6 separate regions of the Homo sapiens genome follow, and regions 1, 2, 4, 5 and 6 are each linked to region 3. Evidence: fine-mapped QTL for protein levels in blood plasma. A gene starts in region 3. Each other region holds a variant in brackets. All regions are shown on one strand. Distances are between the middles of the regions. Region 1 overlaps GFRAL (GDNF family receptor alpha like). Region 2 overlaps BMP5 (bone morphogenetic protein 5). Region 3 holds the start of GFRAL (GDNF family receptor alpha like). Region 4 overlaps HMGCLL1 (3-hydroxy-3-methylglutaryl-CoA lyase like 1). Region 5 overlaps HMGCLL1 (3-hydroxy-3-methylglutaryl-CoA lyase like 1). Region 6 overlaps COL21A1 (collagen type XXI alpha 1 chain).

What was found. A credible set is the group of variants that fine-mapping cannot tell apart. PIP is the chance, under the fine-mapping model, that this variant and not a neighbour inherited with it causes the effect. Protein levels are from antibody-based Olink assays in UK Biobank. Linkage for the fine-mapping came from a reference panel and not from the study's own genotypes, which makes the PIPs less certain.
Region 1: its variant is the best candidate, but not a certain one, in a credible set for the plasma level of the GFRAL protein (UK Biobank, PIP 0.67).
Region 2: its variant is the best candidate, but not a certain one, in a credible set for the plasma level of the GFRAL protein (UK Biobank, PIP 0.75).
Region 4: its variant is the best candidate, but not a certain one, in a credible set for the plasma level of the GFRAL protein (UK Biobank, PIP 0.59).
Region 5: its variant is the best candidate, but not a certain one, in a credible set for the plasma level of the GFRAL protein (UK Biobank, PIP 0.90).
Region 6: its variant is the best candidate, but not a certain one, in a credible set for the plasma level of the GFRAL protein (UK Biobank, PIP 0.71).

What each region holds. Positions count from the first base shown.
Region 1 is chr6:55,401,538-55,407,078 of GRCh38, reverse strand. It overlaps GFRAL (GDNF family receptor alpha like), which reads right to left. Exons shown (of 9, transcript NM_207410.2): 9 at 4,586-5,289. The coding sequence ends at 5,226. Among named protein-coding and RNA genes, the nearest start is that of GFRAL, 77 kb to the right of the region's middle. The variant T/G (reference allele first, on the strand shown) is at 3,100.
Region 2 is chr6:55,809,277-55,814,817 of GRCh38, reverse strand. The region is part of intron 2 of BMP5 (bone morphogenetic protein 5); the gene reads left to right. Among named protein-coding and RNA genes, the nearest start is that of BMP5, 64 kb to the left of the region's middle. The variant G/A (reference allele first, on the strand shown) is at 2,995.
Region 3 is chr6:55,324,233-55,329,773 of GRCh38, reverse strand. GFRAL (GDNF family receptor alpha like) reads right to left here and starts at 2,305. Exons shown (of 9, transcript NM_207410.2): 1 at 2,198-2,305. The coding sequence starts at 2,219.
Region 4 is chr6:55,549,583-55,555,123 of GRCh38, reverse strand. The region is part of intron 1 of HMGCLL1 (3-hydroxy-3-methylglutaryl-CoA lyase like 1); the gene reads left to right. Among named protein-coding and RNA genes, the nearest start is that of HMGCLL1, 27 kb to the left of the region's middle. The variant T/C (reference allele first, on the strand shown) is at 3,196.
Region 5 is chr6:55,440,201-55,445,741 of GRCh38, reverse strand. The region is part of intron 7 of HMGCLL1 (3-hydroxy-3-methylglutaryl-CoA lyase like 1); the gene reads left to right. Among named protein-coding and RNA genes, the nearest start is that of GFRAL, 120 kb to the right of the region's middle. The variant A/C (reference allele first, on the strand shown) is at 3,250.
Region 6 is chr6:56,225,019-56,230,559 of GRCh38, reverse strand. All of the region lies in intron 1 of COL21A1 (collagen type XXI alpha 1 chain), which reads left to right. Among named protein-coding and RNA genes, the nearest start is that of COL21A1, 20 kb to the left of the region's middle. The variant C/A (reference allele first, on the strand shown) is at 2,362.

The DNA.
Region 1 (5,541 bases), 77 kb before region 3:
ATTAAAATAATTATATTGTAATGAGTATGTGATGTTTGTAGATATGTGTTCCACCTTTGAATTTATGACTACTCCTTTTCTTATGTTTACATTTCCTTTTTAATACCTTCTGCTACTCTTAAGAGGCATAGTATCTTCAATACTCACTAAATTAGAATTTTCAGGCAGAAGAGTAAAAATTACATTTGTTTCCAAGTATTGAAAGAATGTGGCCAGGCGTGGTGGCTCAAGCTTGTAATCCTAGGACTTTGGGAGGCCGAGGTGGGTGGATCATGAGGTCAGGAGTTCGAGACCAGCCTGGCCAATATGGTGAAACCCCATCTCTACTAAAAATACAAAAATTAGCCAGGCGTGGTGGCGGGCACCTGTAAGTAATCCCAGCTACTCAGGAGGCTGAGGCAGGAGAATCGCTTGAACCCGGGAGGCGGAGGTTGCAGTGAGCCAAGATTGCACCACTGCACTCCAGCCTGGGCAACAGAGCAAGACTCCGTCTCAAAAAAAAAAAAAAAGAATGTAACACATGGAATTAAGCATTCACTAAGCATTTAATTATACTGACCATTATAAAAATATAATGACCTTCTGCAAAACCAGTCATGTAACTTCTGCAAAACCAGCAATGTAACTTACATTAGAAAAATCAAGTGAAATCTCAAAAATATTTTAATGTAATTTTGTTTGACTGTTTGCCACCCTAAATAAATATTTGAATCTGACAATATTGCCAAAATTTAATTTTAAACCACTGTGTTTTAAAGGCATGTTTCCTTCTTAGTAGAACCAAGATTATAAACAACTGTATTATGGAAACCCTTATTAAAGATACATTTATTGCAATTGACTTGTCTAAGGTTTTGGAAACACCAATTCTACTACCCTAAGTTTTGGGGTGCAATCAGTGTGGTCTGAATAGACATTGAAGCCTCAAAGAGGCACTTTGGGAACAACTTGAGAAACTCCAGTGCAGTAAATCATTGCAGCCCAGATGGTATTCATCTCAGAGTTCTGAGGGGGAACACGTTGTGAAAGAACAGAGCAAGCAGACAGGGATATGTAAAAATTGCACTGTTGGTTCATACAGGGTACATGCCAACCCGGCACTGCCTTTAAAGCGGTGGTGCCATCGTTTGACCATTAGTCACTCAGATTTGACTCCTGCATTTGTTGAGCTCACAATTTGAAAAATTTAGAATATTTTTATTCTAAAAAATAAAAAAATATTCTATTCACTCAAGTCATTTGTATTCATTTCACTGTACATGGCAATGAAAAAGGATGCATGTTTTAATAACCCCAAGATCTGTTTCTCAGGACTCTCACAGGGAATTCAAAAGTAGGAACAGACGCAAGCCTCAGCTTTGGAGTAACCACAAAGTCCCTGTTTTCCTACTGCCCTAAAGCCCTTTCCAGAGAGACCTTTCTGACTCACCTTGCAGAGTTCCAGCTTGTACAGCTCGGCTGACTCCCGGGTCCCAGGAACACCTGTGGGTTTTATGGAAAGGATTCTGTGAAGGAAAAGAGGCTGTGGGTAAATATGCAGAAGCAGCTAGGGGTACAAAAACTTATTAGGAAAGAGACTACTCTGGAGGGAATTTAATCAGTGGTCAAATTATTCTGCGGGGAGGTCTGTGATCTGTGCCACCTGGTGATCTGGCTATCCTATCCTACAGCATTTTTCCCCCTAGAAATCACAAGGGTAAATTTGCTTTCTCATCTGGGGTGAGAGAGATGTAAGGAAGATATTGGACATCTTGAAATTTAATTGTTCTAGCTTGATCCCACTTACCAGTGCCAAAATCATATTTTCCAGTTGACTATTAGGTGACTCCACATGGATATGTCACTGGTGTTAGGAAGTCAATTGATCTAAACTTGAAATATTTACCAGTGTCAGTCAGGGAACCAACAGGAAGCAGATGGGATACTCCAATTAGAATAAACTGCAAGTTATCTGAAATTGGATGACTCTTAAGAATGCTTGATTTAGGTACTCTTTATACAGGTGTAGGTAGTTGAAAAACCTCAAGGCATAGTCCAGTAACTCAGGAATGGCACTGACTGAGCTGTTAACACCACTAAGCCTGCAGGGAGAAGGCCTGGAAAGGTTTATTGCCATCCAGGAAAGATGTGTGTAGAAAAGGCCACACTGATAGAAACAATTGAAGGAAACAGCCAGCCTGTGGGGACATCTCAGCAAGGAGTCCAGGAGAATTTCTCCCCCATTTTCTACCATTTCTCACTATCGACAACCAAATGGAAGCCAGAGGACAAAGGGGACTATGTTGCATATATGTCAGCCTCCTAGGGGTGTATGAGAGGTGGAGGAAAATTGGAACAGACCCTAAAATAACTAGCATATTCCCCTTTCCCATTCCAAGTTCCACTTGTATGAGCCAGTTTTCTAATTGGCAACACGGTTTACCTAATGGCACAAATCAAAATATACTCAACACTCATTCTTACCATGATCCTTACAATCTCAACTCATACAAATATCTGACCCCAAGTTTCCATTGATTCTAAATTGTGAGATTTGTGAAGTGCCTTCCATTCTCTCACATCACTGCTAATTTTTCTCTTCACATCACTCTACCATCACTGCAGCCTGTTCACTTCTTTATGGCATCTATCACTTTCAAAAATTACCTTGTTTACTTTGTTTTTCAAATTTACTGGAAGACTGTGCTCAGGATTGTATCTCCAGTTCCTAGTACAGTGGCTGATACATAGTATATGCTTGATAAATAAGTATTGAATGAATAAATTAGTGCAGGCTTCCAATACTTATTAGCTAACTAATTTAGTTACACTTTAAAGCAGTCTCTTCAGCATCAGTTTTAGTCCTTTATAGTCCATTTCTATGTCTGCTAGCATAACTTTTTTTATTCAAAAATCTGCTTAAAATTATTTTGCAGCACTTTGTAGGATTCCAAATGAAGCAATTCTGTCACTGAACACTTATTTATTGAGCATACACTATGTGCTAAGGAATAGAAAACAAAGATGAGCCAACAGACTCAATCAGGGTGCTTACAATTTACTAAGCAAAAATAATAAACGAAGCTGCGGCAGTGAAGTGTAATAGTCTAAGATGGGGGA[T/G]CACCGGGTGCTGGGAAGCACTGAACAAGAATCTTTGAACTACAGGGAAGAAAATGTTAGGAAAGGCTTCCCAGAGGACTGAAGAGTAAAAGAAGACAACGAATATGGGGACCATGTCCTATGAGGCCCACACTCCACTTTTATAGGTGTCTCCTTAGCCTGGTATCTCAGTGTCTTAGTCCTGATGTTTACTAGCTGTATGTCCTACACTTTCTCAATTTGGACTCTCTGCTCTAGAGATAGGTGACTATTTAGTGTTCCCTAAATGCTTCATGCTGATTCCCCCTTCTGTGGTTTTGCCTACTTATTCCTGCTGTCCTAAGAGACAAGATTCTGTTTCCTAGGGAAGCCATCCATTTTACACTCTGTTCTCCCCTTCTCTGCTCAACACAAGCATGTTTCTAGAAGGAACTTGACTTCTTTTCTCAGTTTTCCAGAGAACAGTTTGCATTTTCCCAGACATTACCAAGCCTAAATTAAATGGCAGTGATTTGGAGAAGGAAATCCCTGCATTCTCTTCATGTTAATACTCTGCATTAGCCACTGGAATATATAGAACTCCTTGAGAAACATCTGTGACTCATCAATTTATTCTTCTCTGTTTTAAAAGATAAACGATGGCTTCTCAATTACTTTGAGTAAACATAGCCAAATGTTAACTCCAAATTTAATTTAATGTAGACAGTTTAATCTGAAGTGTAGTGAATAGCAATAGAAATGAGACCAAATGAGCAGAAAATATTTGAATTTTAATTGTAAATATGCCACGGTTAGTATGATATCCTCAGGTTATTGAATATTTGTGCCTCTGTGCCACTATAGATAATACAACCTCATGGTTATTATGAGTAATAGGTACTAGTGTAATTGCAGGCGGTTGAAAAGCAAATATGTATTAAAATTCTAACTAATGAACATATTTTCTACAATTTTCTAATCACAATTATACTCTGATGTCAAACCAGGCCAAAAGTCACAGTATAGGAATATTATAAAAAGTAACAATTATGGTGTTACTTTATTATTGCAGAAGTTCCTCATAATTAGCCTAGAAAGATTTAATTCACAAAAATCTATGATTATTGAAGCGCACATTGACTTTCTTTCAGCCAGTGTAGTTGTTTTACATTTTATGGGAATAAAATGAGATATCAAGGTCAAAAAGTAAAATTCAATAGTATTCAAATTACAAAATTCAAACATGTCACTTCCAATTTTTTAAGGCTTTCATTTAATCAAATATATATAGGAACTTAAAGTCAATGCTAATACGTTAATGACTGATTTCAAAATGGTCGAAAATATACCAATAACACAGACACTGGATATATATATTAACTTTTTTTGGCAAGTTAATGGGAACTTATGTAATTGATCAGAAAAACTGCTAACTATGTCATATTATGATGCAAATAATTAATATGATATGTGTTTATATTCATCATAAAGCAAATTATGCAAAATGTGACTTGGGATAACACTTTTTGCCTTCAAGGGAAACTTTATTTCTGTTCCAGTGTTGTAAAAGATACCACCATATATTTTTTCTTGAGTATTAAGAAAAAAATAACATCATCATGCCATATTATTATATGTAACAAAGCAATATTTTTAAGTCTATTTTAACATTTTCTTTCTCGATGACAGATGGAATAGGGTGTTGACCAGCTGTAGGATTTGCTTTAAAGAAAGTGATTGTTGTCTTGACGTGGTTGCTCACGCCTGTAATCCCAGCACTTTGGGAGGCCGAGGTGGGTGGATCACCTGAGGTCAGGAGTTTGAGACCACCCTGGCCAATTTGGCAAAACCCCATCTCTACTAAAAATACAAAAAAATTAGCTGGGCGTGGTGGCGGGTACCTGTAATCCCAGCTACTCGGGAAGGCTGAGGCAGGAAAATCACTTGAACCTTGGAGGCAGAGGTTGCAGTGAACCGAGATTGAGCCATTGTACTGCAGCCTGGGCAACAAGAGCAAAACTCCGCCACAAAAAAGAAAAGAAAAAGAAAAAGAAACAGAGAGGGGAGGGGAGGAGAGGAGAAGAGAGGAGAGGAGAGGAGAGAAGAAAAGAGGAAAGAAGAAAAGCAGAGAAAAGAGTGATTGTTATAGGTCCATGACTCCTAATGAATCAGAGTTCTCCAGGTATTTGGATCGATGAAGGATCTCTTGCTTTACTTGATATTCTGGAAGTTCTGTATAAAATAAAAGTAAAAGTTAACAACATGCCATTTTAAGGATTTCACAAATGTGCTTGTGTGTGTTTGCATTTTTGCTGGAGTCTGCACCTGGAGGAAAAAACTAATCAAGTTCCAGAATGTAAAGTCCCAATAGTAAAATATCATATTTTCTTTCTAGGGAGCATCACACCTTTAACTATGATGTCCAAGTAATCATTTTTTAAAAAGTCCTTTCTTTTTGTAAATATTTAAATTTTTAGTTGTTTC
Region 2 (5,541 bases), 490 kb before region 3:
TATGACAATCTCTAGCAAAACACTTTTTTTATTTTAAAATAAGCATTGGTTCATTGACAGAAGTTCATTATTCTGCATTGTAAGAAAATGCAATTCTGTGCCGTGTTATTACCTATAGATGCAGGATTCACTTTCTGTACTCCCCCTTTTCTTCCAAAGAAAGATGTTTAAGGGAAAGAACACATAGAAATAGCGATATGTCTTATAGAATATTTCAGGTTTCTATGAAGGACTTTAAAGTCACCACAGAAAATAATAATATAGTGCCATAAGAGCATAGACTTGAAATTCCCAAATAGGGAAATTTCTATATTTCTTGGAGTCTCAGTTTGCAAATCTGAAAAAATAAAAAACAGATGAAAAAGTATTTCAGATCAAGAAAAATAATTTCAGATGATGTGGGAAGGGCTAATGCATATCCCAATGCAAAGATCATAGTTGATAATAAATACATTCATCAATATATTTTCATATAACTTCATATGAGCATCTATGTTAGTTTACAGAACTATATACATAATGGCAAAAAATTGTTTTTTATTATAATAACAGTAGGTACAGTTTTCTGACACCTACCTTTATGTAAAGATAAAGTAAGTAAAATGTTCTAGGTGTCTTTATTTAATAAATAATTAGTTTTATTACATAATTTAATATATGAAAAATAAATCGGTAGGTTTTGAAGTGTAATAATAAAATAAATGCCACCCAATTTAATAGCAATATCATTGAATCTTTCTGTGAATAATAGCTGAAAACACAAGTTTTAGATAAATAGTCAAACTCTTTAAAATACATTTGAGAAGTATGGGGAAAGGGTAGTGTGGGATGAGAGAGCTCTTATTTATGAATTTATCTTACAGAAACATTGCAGATATAGACAGATGTAGACGGATTCATGTAAAAGTGTTTATCGCTGTATTATTGCTTACAATTCACAAATTGAACATAATTAAACAAGAAAAAAGTTAAGGTATAATTTTTGGAAAAATAGCACAGAGAAAACACATATTACCTTTTTTTTTTTTTTTGAGACGGTGTCTCGCTCTTTCATCCAGGCTGGAGTGCAGTGGCGCAATCTCTGCTCACTGCAAGCTCCGTCTCCCTGGTTCACGCTGTTCTCCTGCCTCAGCCTCCCTAGTAGCTGGGACTACAGGCGCCTGCCACCACGCCTGGCTAATTTTTTGTATTTTTAGTAGAGACGGGGTTTCACCGTTAGCCAGGATGGTTTCAGTCTCCTGACCTCGTGATCCGCCCGCCTCGGCCCCCAAAAGTGCTGGGATTACAGGTGTGAGCCACCGCGCCCGGCCAAATTACATTTTTGAAAACTATTTACTAACACTGAAAAATGCTCAAATAATAATGTTAATTGACCCAAACCAAGAAACATTATTATATACATTATTATACTATTTTAAATAAATTTATATATAAAACAGATTGAAGGAACCCATCAAATATTCATTGCAGGCTGTGGGTAATTTACATTTTAATTCTTCAACACTTTCTGTGTTTTTAAAATTTTTATGATGAACATTATTGGTATAAACAGCAATGTGAATAATTATAGTTGAGAGAAAAAAGGTAATGAAATGATTTTATGCTACACACATCTTTACAAAATAGCATTCCCAACTTCTGCCAGGTATAGAGAGTAAAAAATCAAAACAAAACAAAACAAAAAACACTAGGATTTAAAAATCAGTTGCTCTCATTTTTTCTTAAGCCATGGAAGGTATTTTTTTCTCATAGGAAATGAAGATAAATAGTATCTTTTTTATTTTTCGAAAAAATTTACCACTGCTTTGGAACTTTGACTTTAATTCTCTGAGAATTCTCTGAGAAGAGTAAATATTTTTTGGAAAATAGTTACCACAACTTTGGAACTTTGACTTTAATTCTCTGAGACAAGTATTGCATTAAAAATACTTTATTTACATATCACATGATCACAGTTAAAATGGAATTTCAATTTGAAAAGTAATTTTAAAATCCTATTAATTGTTTTAACTATTGATTATTTGTGGCTTCATATACTTCTTAAAGAACTAAAGTGGAAGTAGAAAAAGGAACTAGTACCTCTGGCTATTTTTAAAGCAGAGTCACCTCTCAAAACTTCTGTGTCAAAGTTGTGGGTTTTATCTACTTCGTATTTTCAGTTAAACTCAGAAACAATTGAAAAGTCAGGGCAGACTGTACTCTTTAATGTAATTTATTTGACAATGCATATATGTTTTCACATATGTAAAGTTTCCTTTCCCTAAGATACTGCCTAGGACTGGCTGGGTAAGGGAGATCTGTACAGTAATTTGGACTGATGTTTTATGGATATGTTTTATATTCAAGACACAGTCTGACCTATTAACCATCTAATCTATGAATTATTTGACAGTGTTATGCAATCAAATTTAAAATATGGTAGATCCATTATGTCACCTCTTTTCTTATTTATTTATCTTAGTGAGACTTATAGCTCTTAAAATTATATATTTTATTCCTACCATTTCTCCCACCTTCCCAATTTATCCCTACTCATATTTAAATGTGTGTAATTTAAAGGAGTGTTCTGATACTTATCCAAATCTATATTTTACTTGGTAAAAAGTTAACACACTTTGCATCATTTCACTTATTTAATCTTTTCATATAAGGCTGACAGCCCCAAATTCTATATAGAAGGCATTGCTCTATAGTCACACCTCATATATCTGGCATTATTGGGAAAGGAGGTTTCCACATGATTGAATTTTCCAGATAATTCAGCTGAGCTTGGAGTGCTTTTGTTGAGCGTCTACCATGTGGCAAGCACAGAGGACATAAGGCCGAGTAAATAGGGCCTCAGAAGCTCATAGCCTGGAGGCCAGGGACTGTGGTGGGGCTGCCACACACAGACTTTAATAACTATAATACAATGTGCTAAGAACGATGATGTAAATATGCACTAAGTGTTGTGGAAATAGAAATGAAGAGAAAGTTAATTTTTTACTTGGAAGG[G/A]TAAGGGACCTTAGGGAAAGCCTCTGAGAGGAGTTCACTATTGAGCTGAACTTTTCAAGAAGAGTAGGAAGTTTCCATAGGCAAAACAACAAATGGGGAAAGAATAGGGAGAGAGAGAGAGAAAGAGAGAGAGAGGGAGAAAGAGAGAGGGAAGGAGGGAGAGAGAGAGAGACAGAGAGAGAGAGGGCAGAGGTGTATGCCAGAAGAAATGTTCCTAAGCACTAAAATGTTTAAGTGTATAAAAAAGTTCAAGCGTATAATGAATTAAATTAATACAATAAAATGATCAATGCCAGTGTTACTACTAATAAGAATAGCATCCAGCACTTACACATTTAATGGACACTCACCATGTGTCTGGCGCTGTGCTAAGTGCTTTACTTGAATTAATTTTTTCACAAATATATATATTTATGTATTCCCTAAAGAAAATGTGCTATGTAGAATCAACCTTTTCCTAATGCTCTGCTATGAATATAAATTTCTGTACTCCATTGTGAAAACATTTTAAGCTAGCCTGCTCGATGTCATTAGCCACCTTCAGTACTTGGATATATATAGTTAAGCTGTCATCATTCCAGTTCACAGTCAGCTTCATATTTACATCATCTCCCCCTGCCTCCTTCTTCTCTAAGATTTGTGATTCTTCTGCGGACATACTTCAGAAGGTACTCTGACATTTTCCACTCAGGAAGATTTCCTGGGCTCTTGAGAGCAGGGTGCCAGAACAGGACACTCAGATGGGAGATTATGTTTCTAAAGTGTCTAGAACGGTACACAAGCATAGCTTGCATATCTTCAGTGTGTGGGGATCATGCTCTATTTTAGAGGTTCTTACCTGGGGTGATTTTGGTCCCTAGGAGACATTTAGCAATGTATGGAAACACTTTATTTTGTCATCCACAATTGATAGGGGGCAGGTATGTGTGTGTATTGTTACTAGCATTTAGTGCGTAGATATGCTGGAGTAGTAATGTGGGTAGGAATGCTGCTAAACCTTCTAAAATGGACAGGACAGCTCCTCTGCCTCACAGAGTGCTTTGATCCAAAATGTCCTTGGTACCAAGGTTGAGAAATCTTGCTCTATTTGAAGATTTAAGATATAAACCTAAAGTGGAAATAGTTTGTGCCATAAGCTAATATGTCAGTGAATTTTGCTTTGACCATTTAATATTTTGGATCATAAGACTCATAAGATGAAAGAGCTCTTAGGAGTTTGTACTGGGTACATTGCTCATTCACTGCATGAAAAATGGTTGAACTGTCTGTGTAATAGCCTCATGTCCTTTTTGCTTGTTGAATGAGGGGACCTCCTGGGTGTATACCTGGTAGCACATGTTTAAATTTCTCTGCAGGGGAAAAATGTGAGATGATGTAATGCCAGGAAACCTACTAAATATTAAAAATGTCTTGGCAATTAAAAAAATTCTGCTCAGTGAAAAGTGATTAAATTTTCTTAGTGAGATTCCAACTTTTTTTCATTTCTGCCATGCTTTTCATTCAATTGCATCTAATATTACTATTTTACCAGTTTTCATCTGTACCTTTTAAATGCAGCATGGAATTAGATATTCTGAAAATTAATGGTTAGTAAGATTTATAGAATTGTATAATCCCACATTTATTTTGGGGAAAAAAAGCGATTTACCATTTGAAAACATTGATCAATTTGAATTGAAACCCAATTCAAATTCTAGCCCATATAAGCTAAAAGCTGCTGATGAGGGAAACTTTGAACCTTATAAACTCTAGAATTTACCATTATTAATTTGTAGTCTCTTGAATAATATGATGGTATTTATGACAAATACCCAGAGAGAGATGTATGCTTTCTCCTTGGGTGGCCATCATTATATTTTTATTGGACTTGATAAGCTATTCAAGGAAAAAAGGAGATGGAAGAAAGTGAAATAGTTATAATAATAGAAGCTTTGGGAAAAGTGGAGATGTCGTTGTGGACTACAAGTTTTGTACTTTATGAAAATAAAGTAGTGTGGCATCCTTTCCTCTAAAATTTGTCTGTGTAGCTTCTAGATAATTTCTTAAAGCTTTTCTGGACCAGGTTTAAGTGCTTCATGATTAGATAGTAGAGTGGCTATCCTATTGGTTTCTCCTTTTTGTTTCTCTTTGAATATAAAAAATATGTGGCTATCCTCTTGGTTAAGTATCCTTTTTCTCTCTCTTTCTCTCTCCATATATATATGTATATAATATATGCATGCATACACACATATACATATATTCATGTAATTGAAACCACAACCACAACCAGGGTTAATATTCCTTTTCTTATCTCTTCTTCTTGATTATATAAATGATTTTACTTATTTTTTATAAGTTTTCAACCCATTTTTTTCTCCAGTAGAACTGAGAGGTGGTTTTATTATGGATTATGTATCAAAAATATTCCTAAAGTTAAAGAAGATGAATAAATTTCTATTTCCAAAGTTTCTAAGTACAGGTTGTTAAATAACTTTTACATTTGTAATTGCATAAATCACTTCTGACTATAATGAGTTGGATGCAAGAATAATGCATACAACTCAT
Region 3 (5,541 bases):
GGGTCACTGCATTTGGAGATTAGGCCCATGGGTGTAGCTTGGTAACATTTTTCTTGCTGAGGGCTGGAGTGGAAATGGACATATCAGCTTTCTGTTTTCTCATGTGTTCATGGACAACCTCATCTAGCCAAGCCCTTGTACTCCTTATTTGGCTAGCCCAAAGAAAGAAAAAGAGGACTCTTTTGATCCTAGCACAAATTTACTTGGTCAAATCCAGTTTTCCAAAGACCCAGAAATAGAAATTTGAAGTCATAAACTCAACTTATAAGAAAATGGTATTTTATTTGCCATTAATCATTATATCTTGTGAAAAGCCCCTTCAAGAATCTTATAAGTGATAATATCCCAGATATATCATCAAAACTTCATCAGTACTTCAGAGTAATAATCACTTAGAAATACTACATGTTGTCTTCCCCAAATATGTTTTACTTCCTTTCACATTTTCAGTTTTTAATGTTTTACTTCCTTTCACATTTTCAGTTTTTGGTTGAACAAGCTTCTTAATAGATTATTTTATAGGATTTTCCACACTTCCTACTCAACAAAATATTGACTCAACTAAGAAAACCACCTCAATGATTTGGTCCACAAGAATCAAGAATGTATTACCTCTCCAAAATCTGTCTTATTCATTCCAAACTATGACTTGTGGTTTTGTATTTAACCTAGGATTTTTCAAGAATTTTCCTGTAATACTCAATGAAAAATAACTTCTATTTTTAAATTAATAAGATGGATAATGCTGCAAATTATATCAGTGTTTTAAAGATGTATGGGGCTTATTATCCTACTAAATGTTCTGAGATTTTAAAATTCATTGTTTTCCACATTTCTTTACCAACAGACATTTTCCTCATTATAAGACCTATTTAGATAATGTCAAACAAGCATTCTAAAAAATATAATATGGGAAATGTTGGTACAACATATCAAATAGTATAATTTTAGTTCTAACAATGTTAAGAAGTTATTTCCCTCCTTCATGCAACCTGGTGTCAAGTTAATTTAGAAGTAAAAGATGAAAATAAGAGGCCATTGCCTTTTCAACTGAGGTCATAATGAGTCTGTAATGTATTTTGTGAGCTTCATTATATTGCTGCCTGATCTATAAAAATTAAAGTTTCCTATATTTCTCTTTATCACAAAAAAGAACTAAAGAAATATTAACAATCTTTATAAAAATAAGAAAATATTTTAGGAATAATTACAAAAAGCAAAATTATGGAACAATGGAAAAATATTACTTAAACAAAAGAAAAACTGAAAATATAAGGGATTTCTCTCCTTCTTAACTTGTTTCCTTGACTTGATATGACTCTCCTTTTATGTTCGATACAATTTAAAGTAAACTTCTTTGCTTTCTGGCCCATAATTATGCCTTTATTCAAGTATATATTAGCTTAAACATAAAATGCCATATTTTTAAAATTACAATCTAGCTACAGTTACAATTATTCCTTTTCTGAATTCAGTTTATAGATTCTACCAAATGCTAAAGAAGATATAAAATATTCTCCAGTCACACATCTAGCAAATAGATTCATGGATTCTACATTAAATAAAAATAAATTATTTTTCATCAACATCTTATAATACATTCATCGGATCCAATACAAGAGAAGTAAGTCCACACTTGAGTTCTAGGTCATAAAAATTAATGAAAATATGAAGCATTCTGATATGGTGTTAAGTGGTTTTACTTCACTAAATTACTTCTAGTTAGCAAATATTAACACTGTAGGTAAATTGAATGTTTTAAATTAATCTTATTTTTGTTTAATTTCAAAGCAAAATAAATAAAATAGATAACAGTTTGAAATTTTTCATCTTATAACTTGTAAATAGATACTGGAAGGTTTTATTTTTATTTCTAAAAGGTTCTAACACATGTGTGAATTCCATTAATCCTAATAAGTAACTCAAAGTCATTGGGTCATTCTATACAATAAAACAGAAACAAGCTGAGAGATTAATACAATTTTCACATGCTGCATTATCTATAGAGTTAGAAATAAGTGAGTAAAAGTGAGTGTACATTTTTGCAAGAAGAATAAACCATGTTAAAGCATAAATTTGTAATTTACTTGGTACTTCATATTATAAGCCCCTGTTAAGCTTAAGTGTGATGGTATTCAGTTTACAAAGAATTAGTATTATGAATAATTCAGATAAACCAGAAGCACCATTCACTTACCCAAGAAAATAAACACTATCATGCTGGACAACTCACGGCAGTTCACCTGGAAAAAAAGGCAGATGCGTTTCTTCTGACAACTTTCTTAAGAGTAACTGTCCAGAATAAGGCTTCAGCCTCTGTGTTTGCTTCCTAAAGGCATTACCAATTCAAGTCAGCTTCCTATATCATCATTTCCTCCCCAGTGTTTCCTAAGTTGTGAACTGTTCTAATTATATTCAAATTCGATTATTCTCCTGAGGGTGCTGGTCTTGAATATTAGGATATTATGCCTCTAAGAAAGCCCATGAGCCAAATACTAAGAGAAATGATACATAATCTGCACGTTCATGAAAAAGGTTTATTTTCCTTAACTAAAATACAACACTACGTAAAAGCCTCCCAAATATGACCCAAAATTTTCAAAGACACTTGAGCATACTCAGTCTCCACTTGTTTAATTAGCCTCATTAAGGCAATTTCATGTCATTTGAGGATATAGAAAAGCTAAAAACGCATAATAGCCCTGGAAAATGTATGCAAAATCGAAGTTCTACTAGAATTAGCCTGATATAACTCAAACATACTGGGAAGCTGCTTCCCAAACAAAGAATGTTGTATTACATGTGCCACAAACCCCAGTATGCTTAAAAATTATGCCACTTCAGCTACAGTATCTGATACCTTCCAAGTACAGCTACAGTGTAAAAAACATACTCTTCTCAGTGATGCAGAAATTCTATGTTCCACTGGAAAGATAATCATCTACATTTGTGTGCATCACTTGACAACTATTTTTTTTCCTAGTTTCAATGAAGGGACTTATTTATCTTATGCCTTGGTTTGGCTACGCCCTTCCTCATGTAAACCTACAGCACATCATCTTTCTTGGGGTGTCATGAGACTTCTATTTCTAAATCACCTGGAGGCCTTTCTAGAATGAATGCTTAAAAAATAAAATGCTGCTTTGGCAAGAAATTAAGAAGAGATAGGGATGGGAGAGAAGTATTTGTGCAGTTACACCATTGAGTTTTTGATTGCATATTGTTCATGTTTATTTTATACCAGTAGAGAAGTTATACTATATTTTGTTTTCAGCAGGCATAATGAAAAAACACAGACTCTAGAGTCCAACAAACAAAAATTATAACACTGCTTTTCTCTATAGATCTAGATGAGTGACTTAGCATTGGAAGTTATTCACTCCTTTGTAAAATGTGTCAATTGTATTAATTCTTGCTGTAATATAAGGTATGTATATGAGGGGCTTATATCACAAAAAAATTGATTATATTACATTCACTGACTTAATTATTACATAATAGAAGGATTATAATATCATAAAATTAATCAATCTTTTCTTCTTTTCAAGGGATTGAGTCACTAAACTTTCCTAATGACTTCTACCAAGACAAGCTTAGATATAAGCCAACTTAAAAGGACTTAAACTAGGACAGAGTTGGTTACTACCATAGTTGAAGAGTCCGTGGGAAGAATTAATTTCAGGTGTGTTTTAAACTGTTTTCTCTGGGTCTAAGTTGTTTGTTTCCTCCTGTCTCTTACCTGCATTCTTCTCTACCAGTTCTATTCCCAGAAAGGCTATTTCCTTCTGGTGGGAAGATGGCTGTGAAGCCCTTGGCAAACATCCTTCTCTCTTAGAAAGCAGGGTAGAAAGTGTCATTCTTTTACTATTAAAGTTGCAGAATTAAGTCACATCAGTTCTAGATGTGTCAAGTGCCAATCAATTTTACAAAAGGAACTTACCCCATGTCCAGTATCATAGATACAGGTTGTCAGTGTAGTTGGCCCTTTTCAAAGCACAGAATCTGATGGTGCAGAAGGTGTGCATCACGAAGGAAAATTATGGTATTAGAAGAAGCAGCTGAAGGGATCTTGGGGCAGCAAAAACCACATGCTTAGTAATGTATCTAAGTGCTGAGTTTAAGAAGAGCAACCACAAGGAAAATAAACTTATGAAACAAAGGAAGAGAATAACATAATTTTCTGTTCAAGGAAGGCGATATAGTTATGACTTTCTAGAGTGCAGTGATCCACAGAACCTGAATATAAGACCCTGTGAATGGTGCTAATCTTTGCCAGACAAGTACAGCTGCTTCGGTCTATAACTTATAGGTATAGAAAGCACCTGTGGTCATATAGCTGTTTATCCAACACAAAATAATATCAGCTGTGTTACCACTGAATGCCTGTTCATTGAGCCATCAGTCCTCTTTGTGTATAGACTCCTTCTCAGGATAATATTTTCATGGCAAAAAAAAATTTTAAAGATCATAAAGGAAATTAAGTATGTTAAAATATACTTGTCAAAATATGTTTTAAATTTGTGATAAAGTAATACATATGCTTCCTCATTGCAGAAGGAAATATCAAGATCTAAGTGAGTCTAAAAATATTGTTGTTTCAGTGTAGTGATTATCACAGATCCTAATTTGAAAGAACTTCCACTAATAAAATGTTATATAAAAATATCTGTAACTTCTATTAGTGACAAAGATAGCACAGGAAGTACTGAATTTCAATGAGTTTAGTAAAAAGATAACACAATTTTACCCCAAGCAAATTATAGAACCTCAAATTCATAAACCCAAATTTAATGTCTACGAAAATAATACTCTCGATTATTTAAATGAAAGCTGCTATTGAATCAGAACATTGTAGAAATAGAATTATCAATTTTGATAGTTTCTAATTATAATGTGTGCCTAATTTTAAAATGTATTCTACATTTCAAGTAAAATGTTGTAATATATAAATGAAACAGAAGAAAGTACAGCTGCTCCGGTGGGAATTTTCATGAGTAGTCCTCAGCTCTACTTATTGGGCTTTGCCAGCACATTCACAGCTGCTACTGAAGCATCCCAAAGGCTCTGAAATTCCCATTCAAAATTCCCTAAATTTATGTAATTGCTTTTTGATAAATTTTGTTTTAGCTAACGTATCATTCTCATGACAGTTAAATGCACTAGACCTCACACCTTGGCAAAAGACATGTAATATTTACTAAAAGACTTTTGTATCAAAGACTCTACAAAAACAAAAATGAGGGACAGACACTAGTTGCATGAATTGGATAAACTAGAATGCAAATTAAGCTACATATAAAAGCGAAAAAAGAAAAATTGTTAAATAAAACTCTATGATAAATCAGTGAAAAAAACTTCATATTCAAGGGCACTTCTTTTTGGAACATAAAGTTGTTTAAAGCTTTTGTTCAGTGACATTCGACTTCCTCCAATCACCTTTGCATTACCACTATATTTGTCTACTTAAAACTTTTGTAGCATGCTACTGTCTGGAGGAGTCTGTTCAGCTCTAGCCAACCTAAAATTGACATTCTGAAAAGA
Region 4 (5,541 bases), 230 kb before region 3:
GGCCTCCAGGGCCATGGCAAAGACTTTGGATTTTTCTCTGAGGGAAATGGAAAGTTATAGAGGATATTGAACAGAGAAGTGATGTGATTTAGTTGATGTTTTCAAAGTATTAGGAAGGCTGCTTTCTGCCTTGCAGAGGAGGTGGCAAGAGTGGAAGTAGAGAGATTGCTTATAATGTTCTTGCAGTTATCCAAGTAAGAAATAATTATTTTAAAGATAGAACATGATCTGCTGATAGATCTGATATAGGGTATGAGAAGAAGAGAGGAATCAAAGATGAGTTCATGTGTATTTCCAAAGAACAGGAAGTCTGTGGGAGAACAGAATGTAGAGGAATGGATTAAGTATCAGTTTTAGAACAAACGCCTTAGACCTGGGCAAGGAGGACCCCTTCCCTGGCCATGGTGCCTAAAGGGGTCCTGTGTATTGGCATAGCTTCCTCTAAATGCCTAAGTCCCCCTCTACTGCTTGGATTGTTCTCAGCATATTTCATTGCCCTTATAATTTGAATGTCCCAAATATTATGGTTTCTGAAAATTCTGATACATTTTGATGTCAAGTTTTTTTCATTGAATTAACTATAGTGGCAATTAGAATCACTAATGTACCCCAAGAATGATGGCTAAATGAATAACTGGGTTGCTTAAAGGAATCGTGAAGTCTCTTTTGCTTGAGGGTGTAGGTCAATTCAAACCTTATCCTGTGATGTGAATGTCTAACTATTCATCTGCCAGCTCCATATTCTGCAAGTGGATCCACAATTTAAAAAATTTTAGATCTTTTTACACCCCAAAACTATGTTTTGAAGTTACAAAGAAACTCCCTGGGGTGAAAGAAGAAATTAAAGCCTAGCTTGTGAAGAAGATAGGACTTTTTTGATACTCTTGCCTCTAAGCATATGATGCCAATCAGAATTATTAATGTATTTAATTTGCTTTTTACATTAGTATTTTTTTCCATGAAAACATTTCTAACAAGTAACTAGCTGTGCCCCCTGTATTCACTTATGGCATTATTGAGCCAGGTTTTGAATACGAGCTCTCATTTATCCTCATGTTGAAGTGAGTGCCCCTCTGTTGCCTCTCAAAGGTTCAAACTGAGGTTGACATTGCCAAGTGGAACAGGATGGGTGGAGTTGATGTTGTCAGCACTGGAGGTGGATAAAAATGTTGGCAGGTTCCAAAATGGGATAATGTCTCCAAAGTGTTTTGAGCTCCTTGCTGAAAGAACTTGAATAATTTCCAGGTATTATTTTGATTGTGGCAAGAGCTGTGTAAGGTAATCTGCTCTACTATCAACAATGATTCCTTTCATTGCAAATTTTAAACAAGTAGTTATATTTTAAAATGATAAATGGAATAATTTAAGTTACCATTTTTGCAAAATATCAGAAAAAAATGTCCCATGTCTTCAAGTTAGCCTTACAAAAAGGGAAGCAACAAACATTGATGAAGTATTAACTCATCAATGTGCTAATGCTTTATATACACATTCTCATTTAATCCTTAAAACAGACTTATGGGCTAAATGCTATTATTATTCCCACTTTTAACAGAGGAGAATGAGGAAGACTACATTATTTTCTCATGTTTTCTCATCAGTACATGATAGAGCTAGATTGTTTGTCTCTAGAGTTTTTCATCACCAGTCTGGATGCCCTACTATACCATCATTTTTTTTTCTTTGGAGACGGAGTCTCCTTCTGTCACCCAGGCTGGAGTTTGGTGGCCTGATTTCGATTCACCACAACCTCCGCCTCCTGGGTTCAAGCAATTCTCCTGCCTCAACCTCCCGAGTAGCTGGGATTACAGGCATGCACCACCATGCCCTGCTAGTTACATACATACATACATACACACACACACACACACACACGTATATATGTAAATACATGTATATATATACATATATGTGTGTGTATGTGTGTGTGTGTGTGTGTGTGTGTATGTATATATATATATATAGAGAGAGAGAGAGAGAGAGATGGAGTTTTGCTCTTGTTGCCCAGGCTGGAGTGCAATGGCACGATCTCGGCTCACTGCAATCTTCTCCTCCCGGATTCAAGTGATTCTCCTGCCTAAGCCTCCTGAGTAGCTGGGATTACAGGCACGTGCCACAGTGACCAGCTAATTTTTTGTATTTTTAGTAGAAACGGGGTTGCACCATGTTAGCCAGGCTGGTCTTGAACTCTTGACCTCAGGTGATCCAGCCGCCTTGGCCTCCCAAATTGCTGGGATTACAGGTGTGAGCCACCACGCCCGGCATATACCATCATTTTTAAAACTTTTGTAAGATTTCCTTCAGTAGAGCTATTGGAAACACAGCTGCTAAATAAACTAATGCTTTATTTTAGGAATATTTTAACTAGGGTATCTCCTTCAAAATTAGTCTCTGTATCCAAATAGGCTTTCTTTGACCAAATTCTAGCACAGGGTCCTACACACATTAAATGTCCACTCAGTAGTAAGTGGATGAATAAATAAACAAAAAATAATTTTCTGTACCTATTATTTGTATAATGGTCATCACATATATACATACAGCACTATATGTGGCTTTACCACAACTCTTTTTAGCTATTGTAACCTCCATTTTTTATAGATGAGTAAATGAGGTACAGAGTGGTAATAGAATTTTTCACTATACTAGGGATGGAAAATATATTTTTTATTGCAGAATAGAGTCAATCATTGATAGTAGATACCTGAATTTAGATAATAGTTTCTACCTGGATAGCAGATACTGGAGTAGGTAGCTCTATTGAGAATGCCTAGAAGATGCACCTGTACTCATTGTGAAAAACTGCCATATTGAATTACTATTGTCTGTCCCGAGTTTGAAATGGAGGACTGGTAGCATTCATGTTTAGGATTTTAAATCTCTATGCTACATGTATATGCCCTACAGAGATAGATCACTACGGGGTTGTCTATTTGAGACTTTAGATTCTGTAATGAGTATTCAGCAATCATTTATCTTTTTTGTGTGTGTTTGTTTGTTTTTGGATCCCTGCATTTTTTTAAAATGCCCCTTAAATTACTTTTATAATTTATTAATTCATTTTAATTGAGTTTCCTTTCATATAGTTAGAACTTTGGTTAGTCTTGATACAGTGGATCAATGTGATGTTCTGCAGAATGTCCAGCTATTTCAGGTCCCTTTGAAATATATTATGACAGACAATAGGTGAATGAA[T/C]ATAGCACTGAGAGAATTCTATAAAATCTGCTGTTGTCTGTCCCAAGCAAATTGGAATTTTAATGCTGTTTTTTCTTTCAGGTACAGAAAAGAAAGCTTTCATCCATTGGAGGCTGCATACCATTTAAATAAGGCAGTGTTAATTTGCTTTTGCAAAAATACTGCAACTGGGACAGAAGCTACAATTGGGGTTTATTTATGGTAGCTTAGTGTCATCCTCCAAAATCATAACATCTTTCTGGTTTGGGTAGAGGCTGTACTGGTGATTAGAGGGGGTTGCTGATGAGGCCATCACCCCTGTATCTTTTACTTTCTTTAGATTCTTGAGGATGGTAATAATCTCTGCTGGCTCACCTAATATGCTTTCTTCTTCTCCTCCCCCTCCTTTCCCTTCCTCTTCTTTTTCTTTTTTTACTATTTCAGCTGAAGGAGAGGAGGGAGAGATTTCAGAAGCTTCTACTTGCCCTTCCTTGTTACAATAGCTCTTACATTACAAGTCAAGGAACTAAGATGCAGTAAGGCCTGTTCCTAATACTAAATATGTTATTTCCAATTATATACTCAGGGACTGAGAAATAACCACAGGGAATAAGGACCCAGGACTCCACTTATTATGCGGTCCTCCTATTTCTCATTTTAACAATGGGGATATAATGATACTTTGGGTCTCCAAGTGTCATTGTCAAATTGAACCTTGTATCCAAGAATCTGAAATTTTTGGTATTCTTCTTTACCCAGTGTAAATTTACTCAAATGAATGCCTATAGATCTCTTTGGGGAAAGATTATATGAATTACTTTATATAGTTCTCTTAGTATTACAAGGTCCTCATCATAAACATCTGGCTGCTGCTTCAGTCACTTGTGGTTTATTTTTTTTTTTTTGGTCTGAAAATTGGCTAAGATGTATAGACTAGGCAAGGGATCATGACTTTTACATTGAAGCAGCTAACCAAAGCTAATTGATGAGCTATAGCCTTCATTAATTTTTATTGTATAGGTCAGGATGGCTTAACCTTAACACTATGGATTTTGGATGTCTTCTTTGTTGTGGAGTCCTGTCTTGTGCATTGTAAGATTTTTACCCTACTAGATGCCAGTAGTGCCCAGCAATTTTGACAACCAAAATTTCTCCAGACATTGCCGGGTGTCCCTTGGGGTGCAAAATTGTCCTGAATGAGAACGAGTGAATATGTTAATAATTACACTGCTGCAGGTTGCCAGGGAGTAGCAATATCCCACCTACTTCGAAGAATATGAAATAACTGAAAATTAACCAGCAACTCATCTAGCTCCCAAATCCCATTTTGGAGACCACTTCCTCAGTTCACTCCTGGCACTAATTTTCTTAGGTCTGGTTCCCTGGGAACAGTCTCCTGGACAAGGATTTGTTTGCGGGACGTTATTGCCATTGGATTCAATAACTGTGGGGAAGTAAAGGATATAAAACTAGGTAGAAGAATAAGTTGAACTATGATGTACTCACAACAGAGGCTTCAGTGAGTCACACAGGAATCCCAGGAGCTGATATGGCCTTTCCAGTTAGGATGGGGGCATGACCTTGGATAAAGTGGCGCTGTAGCTGAGGGTGATTACAGAAAAGGGGCCCAGTGAAATGCCATCAGCTGCCAAAACTTTAGTTTCTGAGAATTTCTCCACCCTAGGAGTACCTGAGCAACATCTCACAACATCCGCTGTAGTCTATTAATCAGAAATAAAAATTTCCAAAGGTATAGATTTCACCTAACTTCACTAGGATATGGTAACATTTTTCTCAACCCCTTCTGCCACCTTTAGCACTCAATAATTCATCTCCAACAAATATAAAACACTGTTCACATATCAAGAAGTATAAGGGACCATAGATTGTTGTTTTCTGAGAATTTTTGTTGTGTGTCTGTAGTCACGCAAATGCTCATTTTTATTTTTGCCAATCAGAAAAGAAACATTACATAAAGCTGTATTTTGATGGAAGTTTCATTAATATCTGAAAATTTTTATTTGAAGTTTGAATGGATTTGGGTTGATGACTGTGTGGATGACTGAGTAGTCTTACTGTGCTTAATAGAGTGTATTATAAAGCTGAAAACTCATAGCACATCACTGATGTGATTTCCCAATTTGACATTGTTATATAATCAATATGGCATAACAAAAAAAAAGTAATGAAATTTGATTGCTTTTTATAAATAATAACAGCCTCAATTAAAATAACTATTTAGAATGATGAATTATGTCTTCTTAGCTAAATATTAAACCAAGTGTCCTCAGCTAACACACTGCTATGCCATCTTAGGAGTTTGAACTTGAAAACTCTGACAATTTATGCATTTTAATAGTTTCCTTC
Region 5 (5,541 bases), 120 kb before region 3:
TGCTTTTGTGATATATGGTGCAAACATAAGTTTGTGCTGTGTGCTTACACACACACACAGACATACAGTCACACACACACACATGCATGCACACCAGAAACCTGAGTCTGAAAGTAGTGACTGTGCTTGAAAAGGAGAGAAATGGAACATCTTTCCAAGAGTAATCCTTTAATGCCGAAAGTCTCTCATATAGGAAAATTAGCTAAGTGGCCTGTCTATTATTTTCAAACACACAATGATATGATTTCAATGGTTAAGTAAAAATGTCTTTCCACTCTTTATAATAAAGAACTAATAATAAAAAGAAATAATGTTTTTCTTCCTAGTTTTTTTCAGAGCTTGTTTACATCATATTAAAATTATTTCTGATGAAATAAGGTAGTAGATGTGAAGAAAACATACATAGTGAAATAAAATTTTCTTAGAAGATTATGACTAGAAATTTCCAAAGCAGCTCGTTTAGAAAAACGAGCATATAATTTAGTATAAGGATAACAGTATCATTGAGAAAATTTTTATTTCTGAGAAGAAAATTACACACTTAATAAAGTAGAGAATTTAGGGGAAATTGTATTAAAATATTTTTAAAGTACTGTGATTTTTTTAAAAAGAGAGACTTTAAAGGGAATTGATGCCTTAATATTCTCCTTTATAGGTCATATATCCTTGAATAAACTCTTTAAAATTGCTTAAACTTTAAATCCACATATTGCATTTAGAACTGAGTCAATTAATTTGTGAATAGAGCTTACTGAAAGAGAATCTGTGTCTAGAGCTAATCTGGTACTAGAAAATCAGAAAGACCATTTTACAAGTCCTCTTTTACTCAGATTATGTCTGCCTTCGCCAGAGTATGTTTGCAGATTAGTCCTGTAGTCTTAGATCCTAGAAAGATCCATTATTGCAAAATATGAATAAATTCAGTCTTGGATTTATTTACATTCATTTTCACTTATTTACAGTCATTTTACTACAGGTTAAAATTTCCAAAAACTTTTATATTTTACTTTTTCTACTTAGGTAGGTAATTAACATTCATTGTGGAGGCATTGGAAAACAGAATTAAAGTAAAATAATTTATCTGTAATCATAGCACCCATGATCATTACCATTAGCACTTTATATATCTCCCAAATCCTTTTTGCTTTTAGAAAATTGTGTCATGACTCTATGTACTGTTATAACATCTTCTAACCTGTTTTTCCCTTAATCATGCAGTTAAATAGCATCATCATTTTGTTTTCTAGCTACACCATAAAGCTATTCTCCATTGTGAGACATTTGGATGGTTCTCAAATTTTCATTCTTAAAAAACATACTGTGATGAGTCTTTATATAGATATATGTGTGTGTGTTATATATCCTATACAAAACCAAGATACAATATACGTCACCCATATGTATTTATTTTTATCTAGTTATTTTCTAGGATTTGTTAAATATTTCTAGAAAGGACTCTTTGATAAGGAACTGTTGGGACAAAGAATATTGACGAGTGAAGACTTATTACTAAATAATTGCTCACCCAAAGAATTCCAATTAACTGTATATTCCTACTCATTTAGGTTTGACTGTTTACCTTCAGTTCCAATAACACTCCCTTTGTCATTGATATTTATTGAACTATAATGTATATATGGAAATGTGTACAAATTATAAGCTCAATGAATTTTCACAAACTGATACTATCAATGTAATCAACTCAGTTCAAGAAATTTATTACCAGCACCCTCGAAGCTCTCCTTGTGTCTATTTATATTCACACTTCAAAGATAATTATTAACCTCTCACTGCTTTGATTAGTGTGGTCTATTTTAGGACTTTATCTAAATGAAATGACGTATGTCTTCTTTTGAGCCTGACTTTTTTCAAGCAACCTTGTGTTTGTGAAATTAGTCCATGTTGTTGAAGTTGTAGAGTGTTTTATATATTTGAGCTCTATATTATACTATTTCAATGCCAGTATTCTTTTTTAATTGTTGTCAGTCTGAAAGTATAAAATACAGTGTTACAGTTTTCACGCACAATCTTTGATTTAATGTGAGGTTGAACTTTTTTTTTTTTGGCTTCACTGGTTATTTATATTTGCTCTAGTGTGACATTGGTCATTTATTGTTCCTCTGTGGTAATACTGGTTTCTCTATTGTAAATAAATCTTTCACTCTTGCCCAAGCAATAGGTTACATTGGCCTTTAGTTACAAAATAGAAGAATGACTGTTGTTTCCTCACTCTTTCCCAAAAGGCCAATTAAGACTAAAAACTGTTGTTTTGACAAGGTAACAAGTTTCCCTTCTGGGACTCCTGTAGTTGCAGGGTCTTGATCCTCAGTAGCGAGAAAAGGAACATGATACGTGGATTCCAGATCCCAGAAGTGAATCATCCACATTTCGGGCTGAAGCCATTTCTCATCTATCCGGCTGATTCCTCTGACTTTTGCTACTTTATACTTTTTTGGGTATTTTTTCAAAACCTGCTTTTCTTGAAATGCTGACCAGTCCTGGTTAACTGTTTGCTGCCCCAGGGTACAAAGTTTCTCTAAAGTTAAAGCTGACCCATACCCCGGATTGATAAAGGGTGAGATAGATAAGAAACTCTACTTTAGGGATTTGAGAATCACTGGATAAGAGGAGATTCTAGGACAGAGATGATTCTGGTTTGATTAATTTAGGGAGAAGCTTAGACATTAGTCATTTGAAAAGGGCTCCAGGTGATTCCAATGGGTTGACAGGATTGAGAATAATGGAAATTTCTGACTCCTAAACTGATACATTCAGATCCACTGAATAGATCAGTTTTAACCTATAAGTAAAGAAATGCCCCTGCCTGTTTATATCATGGCAGACTCCCAGAGACGGGTCAACATCTTAATATTTGTCTTTTCCAAGTACTGAACAATGCCACAAATTTCACTTCTAAAGTATAATTCCCCATTCTTACTGCTTTGATTCATAGTAAATGAAAATTGTCCTAAAGGTACCAGTATTTTACTGCTGAATATGACTAAGCTTGTCAGATCATTATGTGAGAAATGTTGTGGTAATGGAAAGAAAGCAATAGAGACCTTCTCATGTTGGAGAGTATAAGAAGAAGAAATGGAGGTAGAGAAACAGTCTATCCTTTGTAAACTTTCCTTAGGTCCCAAAGAATTCTAAGGCTTTTTAAGGACTGTAGTTCTTCCTTTGTGAGATTTTGTAAGTATCCTTTTCAGTCTTGCAAAGGAAACTCTAGGCAAGTGGTTGAAAACCCAC[A/C]GTCCCTTTGGCATGCCTAAAGGACACAGGAGCCAAGTGAGAGAGCTCCCAATGGCCAAATGTTGAACAGTTTGAGCAACAAAAGACATAAATTGGTATTACGTTATAACCCAAAGTGCAAAATAATTACCTATAATTAGCTATGAGTCCTCCCTAATATAAATACATGTTAGAATAAGTAAATAAATGAGAATGGACAAATTTTCCATACAGAAGAATTCAAAATTTTTGTGTAGATACTCCCCATTCTTTAAGTGTGAGCTACGCATAGTGACATTTTTCCAAAACGTACAATACAGAAAGACTGTGGGGAGACTTTATAGTGCAGATACCTGGCAGACACCACCTCAGCCAGACAAGAAAAGTTAATACCAGCCGTCATAATTTATATTGATATTATATATCCTTGATATAATGCTTTCAGGATGACACTTTACCTCTGTGGTCTTCTCCCAAAACTCTATAACTCCAGTCTTAACAGGAGAAAAACTTAGACAAACCCAAGTTGAAGGACAATGTACAAAATACATGACGAGCACTTTGGGAGGCTGAGGAGGGGGGATCACTTGAGGTTAGGAGTTTGAGGCCAGCCTGGCCAACATAGTGAAACCCTGTCTCTACTAAAAACACAAAAATTAGCCAGGTGTGATTGTGCGCACCTATAATCCCAGCTACTCAGGAGGCTGAGGCAAGAGAATCGCTTGAACCCAGGAAGCAGAGGTTGCAGTGGGCCGAGATAACACCACTGCACTCCAGCCTGGCTAACCGAGCAAGACTCCATCTCAAAAAAACAAAATAAAACAAAACAAAAACATGACTTATACTACTCAAAATAGTTCGGAGAAACTGTCACAGCCCATAGGAGGCTAAGGATACCTGACTACTAATGTGGTATACTGGTGAGCTCCCAGAACAGATAAAAGACACCAGTTTAAAAATGTCTTTAGAAATGTCATTTTAAAAGTCTAAAGAAATCTAAATATTGCATGGATTTTAATAAAAACTTGCCAACATGTGTTCTTTAGTTATGACAAATATACCATAATAAGATCTGACAAAGAAGCCAAACTTCAGTCAGATTTCTAAAACTTCTCCTAAGCCCACCTCTTCATTTCCTTGTAAAATCCAGTTTTAGCAATTCCTACTAAATTAGCTTAACAAGAACCCCTATAGTCAATATCCAAATGCCCGATCTGATTAGGTCTCTCCTCCTCTACCAACCCGAAGGTCATGTCTGATCACCCTATCCTGTCTTCTGCAAAAATCCTGGTAGGTCAGTTTAGCCAGAATTCCTTTCACTCCTGATGTTTTCTCCTAGTAATTTTTAATCCACTGACCCCCACCCCACTCCTTGGCTATAAATTCTCACTTGCCCATGCTGTATTTGGATTTCAGCACAGTCTCTCTCTCCTGCATTGCATGTGGTCCCTGTACCTACTGCAATGTTCCTAAATAAATTCATCCTTGCTGTGCTTTAATAAGTATCATTGAATAATGTTTTCTGTAACAGATGTTAACCATAGAGAAAACTGAGTGTGCAATATATAGGAATTCTGTTTTATCTTCACAAATTTTGTGAAAATCAAAAACTATTTTAAAATTAAAAGTTTATCAAAAAAGTAAAGAAGGGAAGGAAGGCAGGAAGGAAGGGAGAAAGAGATTCCCACATGAGCAGCAGCTGTCAGAATCTTGTCAAAATTTAAAATTCTCAAGTCGCAGCCCAGACCTTCTGAGTCAAAAACTCAGGGAATGTAGCAGTAACCTGTGATTGAGAAACATGATATAGTTGGTTGGAAAGAGCTCTGCTTCCAGGTGCTTCTCATTTTAAATGTGATCATGTTACTTTTTCTTTAATGCCCAAGAGTGAAGAATCGGATTAGGCTTTACTGTATCTTCTGATTACCGAATTGTTACCTTTCACAGAGGAATGGCATGCCTGCCTCTGTTCTTCTCATATTATTAACATTTGAACTCCGGGGCCCTTCTCAGACCCTGTTGTACTCATGTCTTCCATAACTTCTCCGGTACACAGAGAGCTCTTCCACCTCTGATATCCCCAAGTGCATAATCATGTACCAAATCTCATGTTTCCAGAGGCTATAAATCAAAGCAGAGTGTAGATTCCCTGGAGACAGAAGATTTCACCTACCAGATAGTGACCTTGGGTAAATTGTTTATTCCCTCTGTACCTGAGTTTTCTTTCTGAGAACTGGGGATGATACAAGAGTATCTACTTCATGGATTTTGGGGAGAATTGTGAATTAATACACATAATTTGTTAATAACAGCATC
Region 6 (5,541 bases), 900 kb before region 3:
TACAAACTAAAAAAAATTATATTACAATTCATCCTCATCAAGGATGCCATTTGAATTAATATAAGAAGTATATCTTTTCCTTAAAAAAATAAAATGAGGCTGTACGGAATTAAGAAAAACTTTGGAAACTTGACTTTTTTTATTTTAGGAGAAATAAAATGTAATTATACTCTTAGCACTTGAAGGATGCTAAACATTGAGTTTGCTTTATGATATTTCTTGACTGATTTATCATTGAGAGACCGTACTATTAAAAAAGAGTAAAATGTTGACTGAGTTCTTTGAGATTGATACAAGATTCCCCCAGCCTTTCACAGAGTCATAGGACACTGGACTAGAAAAACCTAGTATGGAAATTGTTATGTTTCCATATATCTGGCTTAGTTGGGACTCCTATAGAAAAATGACTTTCAATTTTTTTTACAGGACCCACAGGAAGAAATAAATTTTACATTGTGACACATCTGTATTTATTCGAAATATGTATACCAAATATATCATAATATTTACCTTTTGTACATGCAATGTGCTCTGACATTTTCTGTTCCCTTCCATTCTATTAAACACTGTTGGTCATAGACCACTGAGTTGATTTCAAGATCAACCAATGGATCGTGATTTGCATTTTAAAAAACACTACCATAAAAATCCCTCCAGTTTTTTGTTGCTGCTGGTGGTGGTGGTGGAGGGGATGAATTTGTACTTATAGGAGATTCTTATTAGTTCTGTTTGTCAAATAAATTTCAGGTACACAGTCAGATTACGTTTTCTGGCCCCATGATACTCATGGCCAACGAGCTGAGTGGAAATTAACATATATTTCTGCACTGGAACATTTATTTTCAGTGTGAGAACCTCCAGAGCTCTTTACCCTTACCTTGGAAAATGACCATACTCCTCAGACTCAATCCTAAAATGAGGAATGTGGAGCAGAGCCACTAGACAGCTCATAGTGGACGTAGAGTATGAGCAAAAAATAAATGTTTGTTGTTATAAGGCACAACAATTTTTGGATATATTTGTTACTCAGCATAATCTAACCTCTTGTGGTTAGTGTACGATAATTCAATTATGTGTTTTGCTGGTGGAGCAGAGTCTCCTTTCGAGATATTAACTTTATCTAAAACATATGTAAGTTTAAAAATATGTTTATTATTTCTGATTTTAAAATAATGCATATTCTGTTGTTTTTGAGACAGGGTCTCTCTCTATTGGCCAGGCTAAAGTGCAGCAGTGCAATTCAAACTCCTGGGCTCAATGGTTCTGTCCTCTCAGGCTCCTGAGTATCCAGGACTACAGGCATGAGCCACCATGCTCAGCTAATTAAAAAAAATTTTTTTTTGTAGAGACAGGGTTTCTCTGTATTGCCCAGGCTGGGCTTGAACTCCTGATCTCAAGCAATTCTCCTGCCTCAGCCTTCTAAAGTGCTGAGATTCCAGGTGTGAGCCATCATACCCAGCCAAAATAATGCATATCCTTTATAGAAAAGTTGGAAAGCATCAAAAAATAAAAATTACATATCCATAATGCTATTATCTGGAAGTAACAATTTTTGACATTTCTATGAAAGAGATATAATATCACATAATTAGCTTACTATATAGTTTTGCATTTTTTTGCATTTGTTCTTTTATTGATATTTTTAAAATTGTCATTAAGTATTCTTGGAACATTTGAATTTTATGCCTCTGTAGTACTCCATCATATGGATGAACCAGCAATTACTTAGTTATTCTTGTACTTTAGTCATTTGTTTTATTCCATACAAGGAGTTTTAATGGACTAAAAATCTCACCCTTGACACTCAAAAGCAAACAGTAAGCCAGACCAGAATCCATGTCCACTCACTCTGCTTAGCGTCAGTTGCATCTCCCCATTACTCAAATCCTGGCACACAGGGGGTCTATATATTCACCTGTCAAGTAAGCATTTTCATCTGTCCATACTTTTTTAGAAAATTAAGCACAAATTTCATGTATGAACCATTTCATGTCCATACATGAAATTTGTGCTTAATTTTCTAAAAACTAAGATGCTTTATATTTCTTCTCCTCTACCCTCTAGCAGGAAAATTTGGTTTATATTTCCTGAATTCTTTCAGGGAAAGACATCACTATCTACAAGACGTTCAAGCCAGAGGCTGGGGTCATTCTCTTTCTCCTGTCCACTGCAATCAAACAGTCATAGGACCTGGCCCGTTTTAACTCCTGAATGCCTCTCAAATCACTTTCTGCTCTCACTGTCCTTCAGGCCCTTACTGCCTCTCATTTGACTGCTGCCATAAACTTTCCATCTTCCTGTACACCATTCTCCCTACTGCTGCCATTGTGAGCTTTCTAAAATGTGAACAAGAATATGTTT[C/A]TCTCTGCTAAAAATCCCTCCTGTAGTAAACTTTAAAGACAAAGTCCACTCCTCTTCACTTAATGCAAAAGACCATGTTCCTGCTCTGTTTCCTGAGTACCTGCCCCATCATTCATTTCCTTCACCCCTCACCCCTTTCCCACTCTCCATGGGCGGTTCACTTCATAAATACCTTTTCACTGAGCACATCTTGTTCTTTAGTGATTTTAAGCATTTTCAGGTACTATCTTCCTGTCTTCTTAAGGTCATCTAGCAAATCCCTGGTTTGCCTTTAATTCACAGATGAACTTTACTTCCTCTCAGAGAATGTACCCATTTCCTCTCAGCCAGCCAGGAACTAGGTATTCACTCCACCAAGCTCCCAGTGCCTAGCACATACCTCCATTAAGGTCTCTATTATTGTATTGTAGTTATATATTTGATATCTTTTCACAAAAACCCTATACTTGCTGAGGCTATCACTAGGCTTTCTCATCTGTGTATCCTCAGTGCTTTGTACATTGCCTGAATAATAGTAGATGACTGTGCATATTGTGGAATGAATGGATAAACAGACAAATAGTAGTGGGAAAATATGTATTAAATTTTATCTCTTGATGATTCTTTCTTTTACAATCTAAACAACCAAGCTTCATGTATTTTTCATATCAGAACCAACTGTCAAGACAGGATCTGAAGTTCATTTACTCTGAAGTGTAATAACTGATAAAAATTTATGTCTCCCAAGGGGGTTTTTATTGAACAAGGATGGAATGCTTAATCTAAAGAAAGGAACCTTACTTAGTAGAATTTCCCACAGGCTTAACAAGCGTATGGGATTTGTTTTAATTGGGGATTGGAGGTGGGACTTAGAGGTTTTCTCTTTACTCCAAATAGTCCATAGGCTTTGTCTAGATATGAGACCAGTTTTCTTGCTTGCTGGCTCACAGCATGAACTAGCATGTCATATTACACAGCACATTCATTTTTGTTTCTATTATACAGCATAGATCATATGAACTTCACATCTGGTAAACATTTGTACATTGAATGTGCAGCTGCCAAGAATTGTGGTTTCTTGGTAGCATCCCAGTGACGCTGAGTCAAGGTCACAAAACCAGCATTGCAGAGTTTTCATGATCTGGAACTGTATCCTGCTTTTACTTATTGAGAAAGTTGCTCTCTTAGTTCGTTTGAGGACCTGTCATGGCACCATTTTAAGTTTGGAAAATAACTTGGGCGATTCAAAGTCCATTATACTGTTTGTGGGCTCCCCCTATACGAGCCATCCCACAGAGATGGGAATCTTATCTACTTAAAAAAAATCCAAAGAAAGTATTTCTTAATTCTTCTCAGTGACCTGTTTTCAAAGTTTGATAGTCTCTTCGAAAGTTTCATTGTCATAACAACATAACTCTTCCCTAATTTAGTTTTATCACCTTGCACTGTTTTTTATGGAAGTGAGGAACATTGGATTTTCATATAAACTGCAGTGCTGAAGATACCAGTGCATTGCACCATAAAAGCAAACCAAACAACACCATCACACAAACAATTCAAGATAAATTAAGTTAGGAAAATGGGGTTTCACAGTGTGACTCAAATTAGGCTTGCCAGTTAGCTTTGGCCTCCAAATGGAAGTCTAACATTTTGGTGTGTGGTTTATATTTTCAACATCCTTAGTGAATTCTGTCTTGAAAAGCCAGATACCATTAATATAATGGAGGAACTGGTTTATTTTATATTGATATAATATATAAAGCTTTTAAAAATGTTTCATGATAGTTACCTTTTCCCTCTGGGATTATGAGGAAGAGGGACAAATATCTATCTCTTGAAAGTTACAGTAGAATCATTAGTAGATGTGTTCATATACATTAAATAACGAGGAACATTTTGTAAAAAGTTACTTTGCTCTTCTTTCTAGAAAGGAATGATATAACATTCCTATATTTCCAGGTGAAGAAAGCAAAGTGACTTTTTTTGGTATACACCTGACTGTAAAAGCTACCCTGTAGGTAATTCGGCTATGCCCTACACTTATTTTTCTCCCTGATGTTAAATGAATTAACAATTGGTAACATTCCTAAAATTAGATTTGAAAAGAAAAAGTCAAGATATTTGGATTCTTTAAACAATTCTATGTACTATTTGTACTCTTATTCTTGGGAAGAATATTTGAAATAAGGTGAGAAAAGGACATCATGAAATGCAGGCATAATACTCTTTGTAACTTCCAGAAACATGTACACCACAATGAAGACAGGATGCTCTGTGATTAATCTATTTAAACACTGTATGCTTCCAGGGATCTCCTACCCAGGAAACAAAGCCCACAGGAAGACCATCACATAGGAATGGTAAGACATCTCAGGCACTTGGGTGACTAGCTGTGTCTAATTTTACCTTCTGCCATTCTAGAATTACTCAAACTTAATTTCAAAATACTCTTTTTTGTTCCCGTAATTATTGTGTTTCTTGTCTTTTTAAAGTAATTAAATTTTAAAAAGACTAAAAAAATTAAAGGCCATGAATATGTTTAAAATTTGGAATCCTTTTGTTTTTATGCCAAAGTTCTCATCAGATTATTTTCTGATGTAGATTATTTTTCATTGAGTACCTGAAAATAGCACATCCTTTGGACAGGAACAAGCTGAAAATTTGCCCAAGTGGCAACCTGTAGGCAGCCAAATACCAGGTCTCTGCTGTCAAGTACATTTTTGTTGCCTTCATTCCACTAGCTACCATAGATTCTGTCTGGGCTAGAGTAGAGAACTTAGCTACTTAAGGCTTTCAAGTTTCCTTACTGAGGAGTGAGTAGTAGCCCACTCAAAGTGAAGCTCTAAAAGAGTTCAGAAATTTTGAGTCATTCTATCACTCAGCAGCAGGTGTTGGAATGAATGAAGACCAGTTGACCTAGTGGTTAGTTTCTTGATAGCTTGGGGGGTTTCAAAAAGATTTAAAGAAATGATTGTTGAGTACAGGGGCAGTTGTTTGCTTTAGTAGAAATCTTATTGTAACTTGCATAATGTCAAAGGAAAATGAAATGTTTTAAGGCTTTGTGGGGAAAAATTTAAAATTTGTGGCTTTGGAGGAGTCAGTGGTGTTTAAACTAATTTAGTGGTTAAAGTGATCATTTTTTAGAATTTGAGAAAAGGGCAATCTTTTCTGACTTTTTTTTCCTGGAGGGTCAGAATTTTG